Linked DNA regions of Homo sapiens. The protein of the gene in region 1 interacts with the protein of each later gene in a pairwise test. Each region holds a gene or a part of one and is shown in the gene's direction. Other genes may lie near its edges.

Region 1 (3,752 bases):
TGACTCAGAAACAAAATCAATAATAGCCCTTTCCCGAAAAGACCCCCTTCTTGCCTGGGTGCCAGTCTGCCTTTGTACGATTAATCTATTAGTTACAACATTAGAAATTATGGTTTAGGGGTCCTGCGGCGTCAGGCTGCAAGAGTCTGAACCTTCCCAAGTTGCTGCTGGGGATAACATCGCTATTGTAAAATCTAACATCCTATTTTGCAGACCCTGCACTGGATGGATCAGCTGACACCACTCAGACCGTGTGTGATCTGGCTCAACCAGTTCTGCGATCCCACCCAGGAACAGAAGACTGCAAGAAAACGTTACTTCAACCCCCCTGTGATCCCATCTGCAACCTGACCAATCAGCACTCCCCAAGTCCCAAGCCCCTATCTGCCAAATTATCTTTAAAAACTCCCAGAGGCAGGGTGCAGTGGTTCAACGCCTGTAATCCCAGCACTTTAGGTGGATCACGAGATCAAGAGATCAAGACCAGCCTGGCCAACATGGTGAAACCCCGTCTCTACTAAAAATACAAAAATTAGCTGGGTGTGGCGGCGCGTGCCTGTAATCCCAGCTACCCAGGAGGCTGAGGCAGGAGAATCGCTTGAACCCGTGAGGCAGAGGTTGCAGTGAGCCAAGACCATGCCACTGCATTTCAGCCTGGGCGACAGAGGGAGACTCCGTCTGAACAAACAAACAAACAAACAACTCCCGGAATGCTTGGGGAGACTGATTTGAGTACTGGAATCCCAGTACTTTAGGAGGCCAAGGTAGGTGGATCATTTGAGGTCAGGAGTTCCAGACCAGCCTGGCCAACATGGTGAAACCCCGTCTCTACTAAAATTAGAAAAATTAGCCGGGTGTGGTGGTGGGCGCCTGTAATCCCAGCACTTTGGGAAGCCAAGGCAGGTGAATTATCTGAGGTCGGGAGTTTAAGGCCAGCCTTAAACTGGCGAAACCCCGCCTCTACTAAAAATACAAAAATTATCTGGGCATGGTGGCATGTGCCTGTAATCCCAGCTACTCGGGAGGCTGAGGCAGGAGAATCGCTTGAACCCGGGAGGCGGAGGTTGCAGTGAGCCGAGATCACGCTATTGCACTCCGGCCTGGGCAACAGAGCGAGACTCCGTCTCAAACAAACAAACAAAGGAACGAAAACCTCCGGTCTCCGGCACGGCAAGCTCTGCGTGAATTACTTTCTCCATTGCAACTCCCCTGTCTTGATAAATGGGCTCTGTCTAAGCAGCGGGCAAGGTGAACTCGTTGGGCTGTTACAGGACCAGTGACAGACCAAGGGCATGCCACTGAAGGAATCCCTAGACGCACCCTTCTGGATGTGAGACAGGCGGATCTCACCCACGCCTGCCAGCAGCTCCTCGGAGAACTGTGTTCCTGGGTCAGCCCTGGCCCAGAGGAGCGCCGGGGACCCGCAGAGTGCTGCTGAAGTCAAGGCTACAACTCACCTAGGATCTGGGGCGCCAGCCCTCCGGTGGGCAGGGCGTTCTCCTCCCCCACCCCCTCCCCGCACGATGACATCAAGTGTTTGGCGTTGAGTTGCTCCATAAAAGCTGCCCGGGGAAGCCAGGAGAGCGAAGGGCGGACGTACTCGCCACGGCACCCAGGCTGCGCGCACGCGGTCCCGGTGTGCAGCTGGAGAGCGAGCGGCCACCGGGAGCCCCCGGCACAGCCCGCGCCCGCCCCGCAGGAGCCCGCGAAGATGCCCCGGCGCAGCCTGCACGCGGCGGCCGTGCTCCTGCTGGTGATCTTAAAGGAACAGCCTTCCAGCCCGGCCCCAGTGAACGGTAAAGTTTCCGCCTGCTTCTTTCCTAACACTCCTGAGCGCTCAGCCGCCCCTGGGCTGAAGGCTCTTCAATGATAAAGTAAAATCATTGCTGCGGGGAGCAGGGAAGGTGTAGTACCAAATAGTAGATTCTCAAGAAAGGATGCTCCGTTTTCCTTTGCTGAGGTTGGGTCGGGAAGCACGTTGCTTTCTAGTGGCGCTTGGCGCAGATTTGGTGTTAAAATGTTTGCGTGTACTCCCGGGCACCGCCAGCTCTGAAGATGTGGCTTGGGAACTTGCTAACCAGGGAGGAGATGCAAAGCCAAGATTTAAAACAGCGTTCCCCTGATCCACGTTTAGAAAGTAGAGACATGACTGTGGCATTCTGATTGGGGTAAGCACAGAGAAAGGTTTGCTGTGCCCCTGTGCAGAACCCGCAGACAGTGGTAGGCGCTTTTCTTTGGAGGAGAGGATCTTTACCATTAAGTCTTACCTACAAGTCAAAGGGATGATGCATCCCATTCTTAATCATTGTTTTTCTCCAGGAGGGCTCTACTATGCTGAATGTACGTGTGTGTGCACGTACACACACACACGCACGCGCGCACGCACACAAACCACACACACACACACACACACACACACAGCATATTTCTGATTGTAATTAGAACACTAAATCCCAAAAGGCTGGAGGCTGAGGGACTGAATGGAGGCTCCGTGGAGTGACAGGAGGAGGTGGCAGAGGGGACCTGAACTGTGGGCTCACGCCGGGCCAGTGAGCTAACACGTGTACAGCCAAGGCTGGTTCATTAATCTTTTGGAATAAGAAAGTGATTTTGGACCGAAAGTGATTTTACTGGCTGAAACTAGATTCTTCCTGGCGAGGCAGTGGTGGTGGGAAATGTGTCCTGCTCAGCAGCATAAAAGCTCTGAGCCTCCTCTCTTGGAGGTCACAGTGCCCATGGGGAAGGGCAGGGGAGCCAGGCTGTGGATAACTCTTAATTAAATTCCAGTCAACTAGCTGGCATGATGTGCTTGATATTATCTCCCTCATCTGGTCAGGGAGAAACAGAAGCGATGTAACAGAAGTTGGGAGAAAGGAGCGATGTAAAAGTGAAAATCAAGTTTTAAAACCACAAACTTTACATGTTTCCTTTTACGAAAGCTGCACTGAGACCAAAGTTTCCCTGGAAATCTCTTTAGTCCTAAGTTGCTCCAAGACCAAAGGGAGAAACAGCCATTAGTTGGCCCTCTTTCCTATAGCTGGTTGCTCCTCTCACTCTGGGGCAGCTCTGCCTCCCTTCTCTCTCTTTTCCTGCCCTTCCCTGTTCTCTTCCCTCCCTCCCCTTCCTTTCTTCCCTACTTTCCCTGCTCTTCCTCTTCCCTCTCCCTTTCCCTCCTCCTTATCTCCTCTCCCAATTCTCCAAGTTGGGACTGGGGAAGTTTGTAGTCAAAACTCCACTTTCGCCTCACTCTGAGGAAGGAGACTGCCTACCCCTGGGTAGAGCACAGCTTTTATTCTGTAAATTCTCATGCAGTTTCCTTGGGTTTTTAACTGCCTTAGAGGACAGGTCAAAGCAAAAATCACTGAGGTGTAGAATGTCAGCATGAACCCAAAGTTGGAGGTGGAGAGGAGTTAAGCTGAGTAATGGGGTCAAAGTGTGATCTGCTCTCTGCCTGGTGCATTTAAACTTCCAGCATTGGAGAATGTTCAAGAACAATGTCAGGGGCCCAGGAGGGAGCATAATAATGTGAAGTCAAGTGTCTTCTGGAGAAACCCTTGGAATTCTTAGTTGCCGTGGCTTTGGGGGGCATTTCAGTGAATTCTGCAGAGCTTGCCCTGCCCAAACCTGGTGTGGAGAGCCAGGCAGTCTTGGGCTACCCAGGAGATGGTTACTCAGGGAAAGTTCTAGCACCCAGCACAGGAAGCAGGCAGGGCCCAGGACCTCTGATATGGATCTTGGTAAATACCATTTTC
Region 2 (3,652 bases), on another chromosome or scaffold:
CGAGGTGGGCAGATCACTTGAAGTCAGGAGTTCAAGACCAGTCTGGCCAACATGATGAAATCCCGTCTCCACTAAAAATACAAAAATTAGCCTGGTGTGGTGGCGCACCCCTGTAGTCCCAGCTACTTGGGAGGCTGAGGCAGGAGAATCGCTTGAACCTGGAAGGCAGTGGCAGAAGGAAGATCATGCCACTGCACTCCAGCCTGGGCAACACAGCAAGCCTGTCTCAAAAAAATGAAGGGGATGGGGTGGGTGTGGTGGCTCATGCCTGTAATCCTAATACTTTGGGAGGCCAAGGTGGGAAGATTGTTTGATGCCAGGAGTTCAAGACCAGCCTGGTCAACATAGGGAGACCCCATCTCTAAAAAAGAAGGGGGTGGTCAACGATGTTAAGTGCTGCTGAGAGGATGAGTCTTGGCTCTGCTGATTCCTGACTTGAGTTTCCAGTCAGAAATACACAGAGGTCCTTAGCACTGTCTACTCTAGAGCCTTCTTAGATCTGTGAGATGGAAGTATAAATTACTGTGAGCAGTACTTCTGATGTCACCATGGGCAAAAGAGTCCATATGTGAAGGTCACATGCTTATTTACATCCTTTTCTGTTTTGGGCTATTCTGCAAAATCAAGTCCTGTCTTACCCTCTCTTCATGCCACCCCCAACCAGGCTCTGGCGTTACGACGTATTCTGTACACCCTGGCACAGTCCAATCTGAACTGGTTCGGCACTCATCTTTCATGAGATGGATGTGGTGGCTTTTCTCCTTTTTCATCAAGACTCCTCAGCAGGGAGCCCAGACCAGCCTGCACTGTGCCTTAACAGAAGGTCTTGAGATTCTAAGTGGGAATCATTTCAGGTATGAATGTTATCTCTTTTTGCAGATGAGATTTATTGCTCAAAGGAGATAATTTGGGTTTGTCTGGGTATACCCTTTTTTAAAAGTACATTGTCTCATATAGCTTTTGTCTTTTAACTCTAGAGTTTTTACCTTTTAGTAGGGGAATTTGACTCTCTTTTGTAATAACTGCTACATTTGATTTTATGCCATCTTTTATACTGATAATTATGCATTCTGTTTGTTTTCTTCCTGTCTTTGTTATGTCAGTCCAGTTTTCTTTATTCTTTTTTGGATTCCTAATTCTATTGTTTTACATTAAAAAGAATTTAAAAAGAATTTGAGGCCAGGCGCAGTGGCTTACGCCTGTAATCTCAGCACTTTGGGAGGCCAAGGTGGGCAGATCACCTAAGGTCAGGTGAAACTCCGCCTCAAAAAAAAAAAAAAAGAATTTGAATCTGCATTTCTCTATTGTCCTCAGGATTGAAATACTATGGACTCCCCTCTCAAATAAGCGAAGACATTTAAAATGATTTAAATGTAGAGAATTTTGAATATAACACAGGGTTAGATAAAATAGTGCACTGAGCCTGCATATAATGGAGCCTCAGCTACCATTAACCCATGGCCAATTCTGCCCTATCCCCATTCTCTACCCCTTTCCATATTTTTCTTCTCCCATATTATTTTGAAGCAAATCCCAGGCATCACATAAGATCAAAATTTTAACATGTTTTTACCTCTACTTCAGGTTATTGTTGAAATGACCTGAAATTTTAAGGAAGTAGCTGAAAATAGCATTAAGATTGGAAAGAAAGGCAGACAGATTATGAGAGGCCTATAATGCCAGCCTTGTGGAGGAGCCCCAGAGTTGTTTCAGTAGACAGACAAAATCTGGTCTGTGCTTTAGCAACTTTGTTTCATGAATGAATAATTAACCTAGTGAGAGAGAGAGTTTCAGAAAGTTGTAATGAAAGGAATGGTAATGTGAAAGAGGCCCTGAAGCAGCAGAATTTTTATCACTGGATGATTAATTAAATGAGGGGATGAGGGAGGCTTTGCTAACCTGAATTTCAAGCCTGAATGAGGTTGATGATGACATTAACTAAGACAGCAGACATGGAAAAGTAATGTGTGGAACTTAGGGTTCTTGGATTCCAAAGCAGTTGAAAGGGACTTTGTCTAGCTTAAGCAAGAAGGAAATTTATTAAAATATTAGTAGGGAGAGGAGGGACCCCTAGGTTGAAAGGGAAGACTGAAGAGCCAGGCTAAGAAGTGTCAGAGTGGCAGTCAGCCAGCCGGGGCATTGCTGCTAGAGTGAGCGAATGCCAGCTATCTTTAGTGTTTAGGTTGTATTGCTTATCATCCATTCTCTAGGGAGGAAGCATTGGATCTCCTTCCTCCTATCCCTTCATTTTTACTCTTTTGATTAGAGGCAAACAGGGACTTTATTAATGCTCTCTTCAAACTATATTGAGGGGAAAAGGTGATTCTGCAGAAGGAAATCAGGTTGCTATTGCCGAAACAAAGTAGAATGTTCAGCCAAAGAGTAACAGTTGTCCACTGTGTAACAAACCTGGCTCTGTACATGTTGCATGTGTGTTATCTATAAGGCATGCAAGTAGAAATGTATAGCAGATAGTTGGAAATGTGGTTCTGAAGTATAAGAAGATAGATTTATATAGTATACTGGATTGATTTTCCAAGAGTGACTGGATTCTTCTTCCCTAGAGATTTTAAGAAAAAAAAAAATAACCCTTTATCTTGGTTTTGACTGAGTGGTTTAAAGAAAGTCAGCTCTAAATCCATAACTTACTATTGGATTGACTTTTGAAGAGCCTTTCCTGTGCTATGGATTCTTAATTCATTTTGAAGATCCAACAGCAGCCGTGTAGACCACCATCAAGAAATGAACATAAAAGTCTTTTGATTGAAGCCTTAAGATTTTTGCACTGGCTCTTCTTTCTGCCTGCAACCACTAGTCTGCTTTATGTCTCTAAGAATTTGCCTTTACTGGACATTTCATATAAATGGAATCATATGGTATGTGGCCTTTTGTGACTGACTTCTTTTACTCAGCTTAATGTTATCAAGGGTCATCCATGCTAAAGCATGTGTCAGTACTTCATTTCTTTTTATTGCTGGATAACATTTCATTGTATAGATTTGCCACATCTTATTTATTCATTCATCAGGTGATGGGCATTTGGGTTTGCACTTTTTAGCTATTTGAATAATACTGCTGTGACCATTTGTGTAGAAATTTTTGTGTGGACATTTCTCTTGGGTACATGGAAGTGGAATTTCTGGGTTATATGGTAACTGTGTTTAACTGCTGAGGAACTGCCAAACTTTTCCAAAATGACTGCCCCATTTTACATTCCCACCAGCAGTCTATGAGTATTCTAATTTCTTCACATCCTCAGCAACACTTGTTATTGTCTCTCCTTTTGAGTTTAGCCATCCTAGTGAGTATGAAGGAATATCTTGTTTTTATTTTCATTTCATTTTCCTACTAATGATGTTGAACATTCTTTCATGCGCTTTTTGGTTCATTTGTTTCTTTGTTGGGGAAATGTCTATCAAGTCCTTTGCCCATTTTTAAGTTGGATAATTGTCTTTTTATTGTTGAGTTACAAGAGTTCTTAATAGTCTAGATGCGAGTTCCTTGTCAGATATATAATTTGCAAATATTCTCTCATTCTGTGGGTTGTCTTTTAACTTTCTTAATGGTATCTTTTGAAATGTAAAACTTAAATTTTGATGAAGTCCAGTTTATCTATTTTTTGTCACTTGTGCAGTCATATCTAAGAAATCAT
Region 3 (3,652 bases), about 29 Mb from region 1:
AACCTGCTCTATATGTCTTATGTCTTGTTATTTGTTTATTGCCTGTCTCTGTCCCACCCCCCAACCCCCACAGTTGCTCACACACTGGAATACAAGCCCTGTGTCTTTGTTCATTGCTGTATCCACAGACATGACTCATTGTAGATACTGACATTGTTAAATGAATGAATTTCTCAAAAGCGGTGTGAATAATCATAATATGAAAGTAAATAAGGAAATCAGCTCTCTAAGGCAATGCTATTCTTTTTATACTCTCAGGATAGAAGATCTTGGCGTTGTGGTAGATTGCCTTCCTGTGCTCACCAATTGGTAAAAACAATATTTTTCAGAAAAAAAATAAGATTAAAGGAGGTCAAATTATGGCCCATCCATATTTTTATAACTTGGTATTTATTTTAGTTTACAGGAAGAAAAACAATATATCTCACTTGGCTGCTGTGTTGACTTGTTGCCTCTAGTAAAGTCACTACTTAAAAGCAAATTTGAAGAGTAAGTGCTAATCTGAATCTTGATTCATTTTTCTTTTTCAGCATCCTTGATTTTGTGCTTTGTGAGTACATAGTAGATTGGGCTCCATGAGACATGCAAGGTTTCTGTTTTCAAGAAGCTAATAGTACAATTAGGAAAAGAATATGAAATGACTAAAGGACAATTATAAAAGCATCTCTAAACAAATTACATGAAATATACTTTTGTGTAATAGATCATGAAGGTAACAATTTTTTAAAAGGGAAGGGACCAATGTGTGTGTGTGTTTTTTGGGAGGGAAAGTATCATCTTTTATAAGAAGGGTTCTTAGATGAAAACACTTGAATTTTGTAACAAAATGTCATTTCAGATATGTTATAGTTGGTTTAAACTGGCTTCAAGCAGTCATTAAAAGGTGGTGGTCAGAACTATCATCCAAAACAGAAATTATAAATGATGGGTGAGTATACCTTTAAAGATAAACTCATGCTGAAATTTTCTTCAGGAAAGCAGCTTGATTAAACTAGGTAATAATTTTATCCCATTATCATCAGTGTATGGTATTTATTCTTTTTATATTCAGAGAGATACTAACTTAAGAGACTGTTCATTTGTGAAAACCACACCTGGAAATTGAATTCCAGAGCCTACTAACCTCCTGTATCTCTTCTTCTGGCACAACCCTACCCTTCATTTTAGAAGAAAAACACAATAGTGGTTTAATTCTCATATTCATTATGAGTAAGGGAGGAAAAAGAGATGCCCACAGTGTAATAAGGAATGGAGGCACCCTGCGGGGTCCTTTACCTAGACATTAACCTGAGAGTCCGGTGTTGATGTTTACAGTTCTAAAAACTGTATTATTACTGCCTTGATGTGAAAATTCGTGGGTATTCTACCAGAGTATAGCCAGATTATCATGAAACCACAGAAAAATATCTCCCAACAGTTTCCTTAAAGTCCATAATTTTGGGCCAGGCACGGTGGCTGATGCCTGTCTGTAATCCCAGCACTTTGGGAGGCCAAGAAGGGCAAATCACTTGAGCTCACAAGTTTGAGACAGCCTGGGCAACATGATGACATCCCGTCTCTACAAAAAATACAAAAATTAGCCAGGCATGGTGGTGTGCGCCTGTAGTCCCAGCTACTCAGGCTGAGGCAGGAGGATCGCTTGAGCCCAGGAGGTGGAGGTTGCAGTAAGCCGAGATGGCACCACTGCACTCCAGCCTGGGCAATAGAGCCAGCCCTTGTCTCAAAAAAAAAAAAAAAAAAAGCCACAATTTATTTTGTAGGCTCTCAAAATTTTCTACTTCACACCAAGGAATGTCCAAATGTTCCAAACGCCTGGTCATTTTCTTACCTGCTTTGACAACTAAATAACCTTTAATTTTCTTTTTTTTTTTAATTGAAATCAAGTAAGAAATTTTATTAATTTTGGAATTGAAAAAACATCCTTTGTTGTTTCCAAGAATTAATTAAATAGGAGGCATTTGGCGGTATTATGTGGATAAACCTTTAATTTTCATGACTGACATGTATTATTCTAAAAGTTATTTGATTTTTTTTTAATTTCTCTCCACGTTCCCAAATGTTTTATTTCAAATAGCATCATTTTCTCCTGAAAAATACCTGAAAAATTTTAGAACAGTTTTTATTATGCATATTTATGATGAAAGTTTGTATCTTAATGTATTTGCTTTCTCATTTTTCTTCCTTTTTTTTCTTTTAGAAATATTCAAATTTTAAAACAACAATTAAGTGGATTATGGGAACAGGAAAACCATCTTACTTTGGTTCCAGGATATACTGGTAATATAGCTAAGGTAATCTATATTTAAGCTTATAAATTAAACATTAAAAATTAGAAATAATATTTTACATTTATAAATTAATTTTCAAGTCTCTAGGCAAAATAATATGGTACTGTTCTAATGTCTAAAGTCAATTTCATATTTTCAAATGCTTCAGGTCCTCTGCGTGTAACTGTGACCTTGGCAGCAAGCACAGGAATTGGCCATTGAACATGTTTCATGTACAGCCCCTGAAATGCTATGCTAGAGGATATTTACAGAGGGTTTTAATCAGAGAAAAGTATTTGAAAAAATTTTGAGAATCCAATAAGGACAGCATCAGAAAACAAGACGAGGAACTCAGGAAACAAGGGATAAGAAACATAATTAAATGGTTTTGGAGATTAAGTTTTACTTTTGCTAATGTTATGCTTTTTGAGAAGGTAAACTATTTAAATCACAGTGAATTTGACTTTGGTCTTTATTGATTTGTCTCGTAAAGGAAAAAGTAAAAATTGCTAGTTTGAATTTTAATATTTAAACTCCAGAAAACATTGGTAGTTAGGCCGGGCACAGTGGCTTACGCCTGTAATCCTAGCACTTAGGGAGGCCAAGGCAAGCAGATCACCTGAGGTCAGGAGTTCGAGACCAGCCTGGTTGGTGAAACCCCGTTTCTACTAAAAATACAAAAAATTACCTGGGTGTGATGGCACGTGCCTGTAATCCCAGCTACTCGGGAGGCTGAGGCAGGAGAATCACTTGAACCTGGGAGGCGGAGGTTGTGGTGAGCTGAGATCGTGCCATTGCACTCCAGTTTGGGCAACAGAGTGAAACTCCGTCTCAAAAAAAAAAAAGAAAGAAAAAACATTAGTAGTTAAAAATTAATTGAAGAAAAAATTGTCATTAAGAAATACTTTTACTTTATTACCGGGCATACTGCTATCATAAATGGGCATTAGCCAGGAATATAAAAAGCATTCTTTGGTTTTAAAAATATATATATATATATATTTCTAAATAAGAGGATTTATGTCATGGACTTAGTTATAACATTTTTCTCGGAGACAAAACAACTTCTTAGAATTCAGGGGGAAAAAAATACAATGCTAAGGGAAACAGAGGCTTGGGCAAACCTAGGTAGCCTTGAGGGATAATCTGGCTTCTACTCCAAGATAAGTTCAGCTCTTACAGGAGACAGAAGCTTTCAGGGAATTAATGTAGCTGAGGGAAGAAAAGCAAATGGGAGTGATACCAACAGTGACCAACCAGAAGCTTATCTCCTGTCAAAGTGACAGCCACAGAGGAGCTCTGGCCATTGCTATGGAAGACCATGGCCCCTCTCCCAAAAAAAAAAATTTCTCAGATACCTTCAAAAAAAAGAAGCAAAATGATAT

The links.
Region 2: the proteins of CA12 (region 1) and RDH11 interact in a two-hybrid assay, tested with the Homo sapiens proteins (one large-scale study listed by BioGRID and IntAct).
Region 3: the proteins of CA12 (region 1) and KATNBL1 interact in a two-hybrid assay, tested with the Homo sapiens proteins (one large-scale study listed by IntAct).

What each region holds. Positions count from the first base shown.
Region 1 is NC_000015.10:63,379,680-63,383,431, reverse strand, and holds the start of CA12 (carbonic anhydrase 12 isoform 1 precursor), read left to right. Parts: upstream 1-1,585; 5' UTR 1,586-1,711; coding exon 1,712-1,796; intron 1,797-3,752. UniProt on the Homo sapiens protein: Reversible hydration of carbon dioxide.
Region 2 is NC_000014.9:67,682,217-67,685,868, reverse strand, and holds part of RDH11 (retinol dehydrogenase 11), read left to right. Parts: intron 1-664; coding exon 665-854; intron 855-3,652. UniProt on the Homo sapiens protein: Retinol dehydrogenase with a clear preference for NADP. Displays high activity towards 9-cis, 11-cis and all-trans-retinol, and to a lesser extent on 13-cis-retinol.
Region 3 is NC_000015.10:34,144,037-34,147,688, reverse strand, and holds part of KATNBL1 (KATNB1-like protein 1), read left to right. Parts: intron 1-258; coding exon 259-309; intron 310-399; coding exon 400-489; intron 490-838; coding exon 839-928; intron 929-2,197; coding exon 2,198-2,291; intron 2,292-2,436; coding exon of another isoform or gene 2,437-2,451; exon of another isoform or gene 2,452-2,720; intron 2,721-3,652.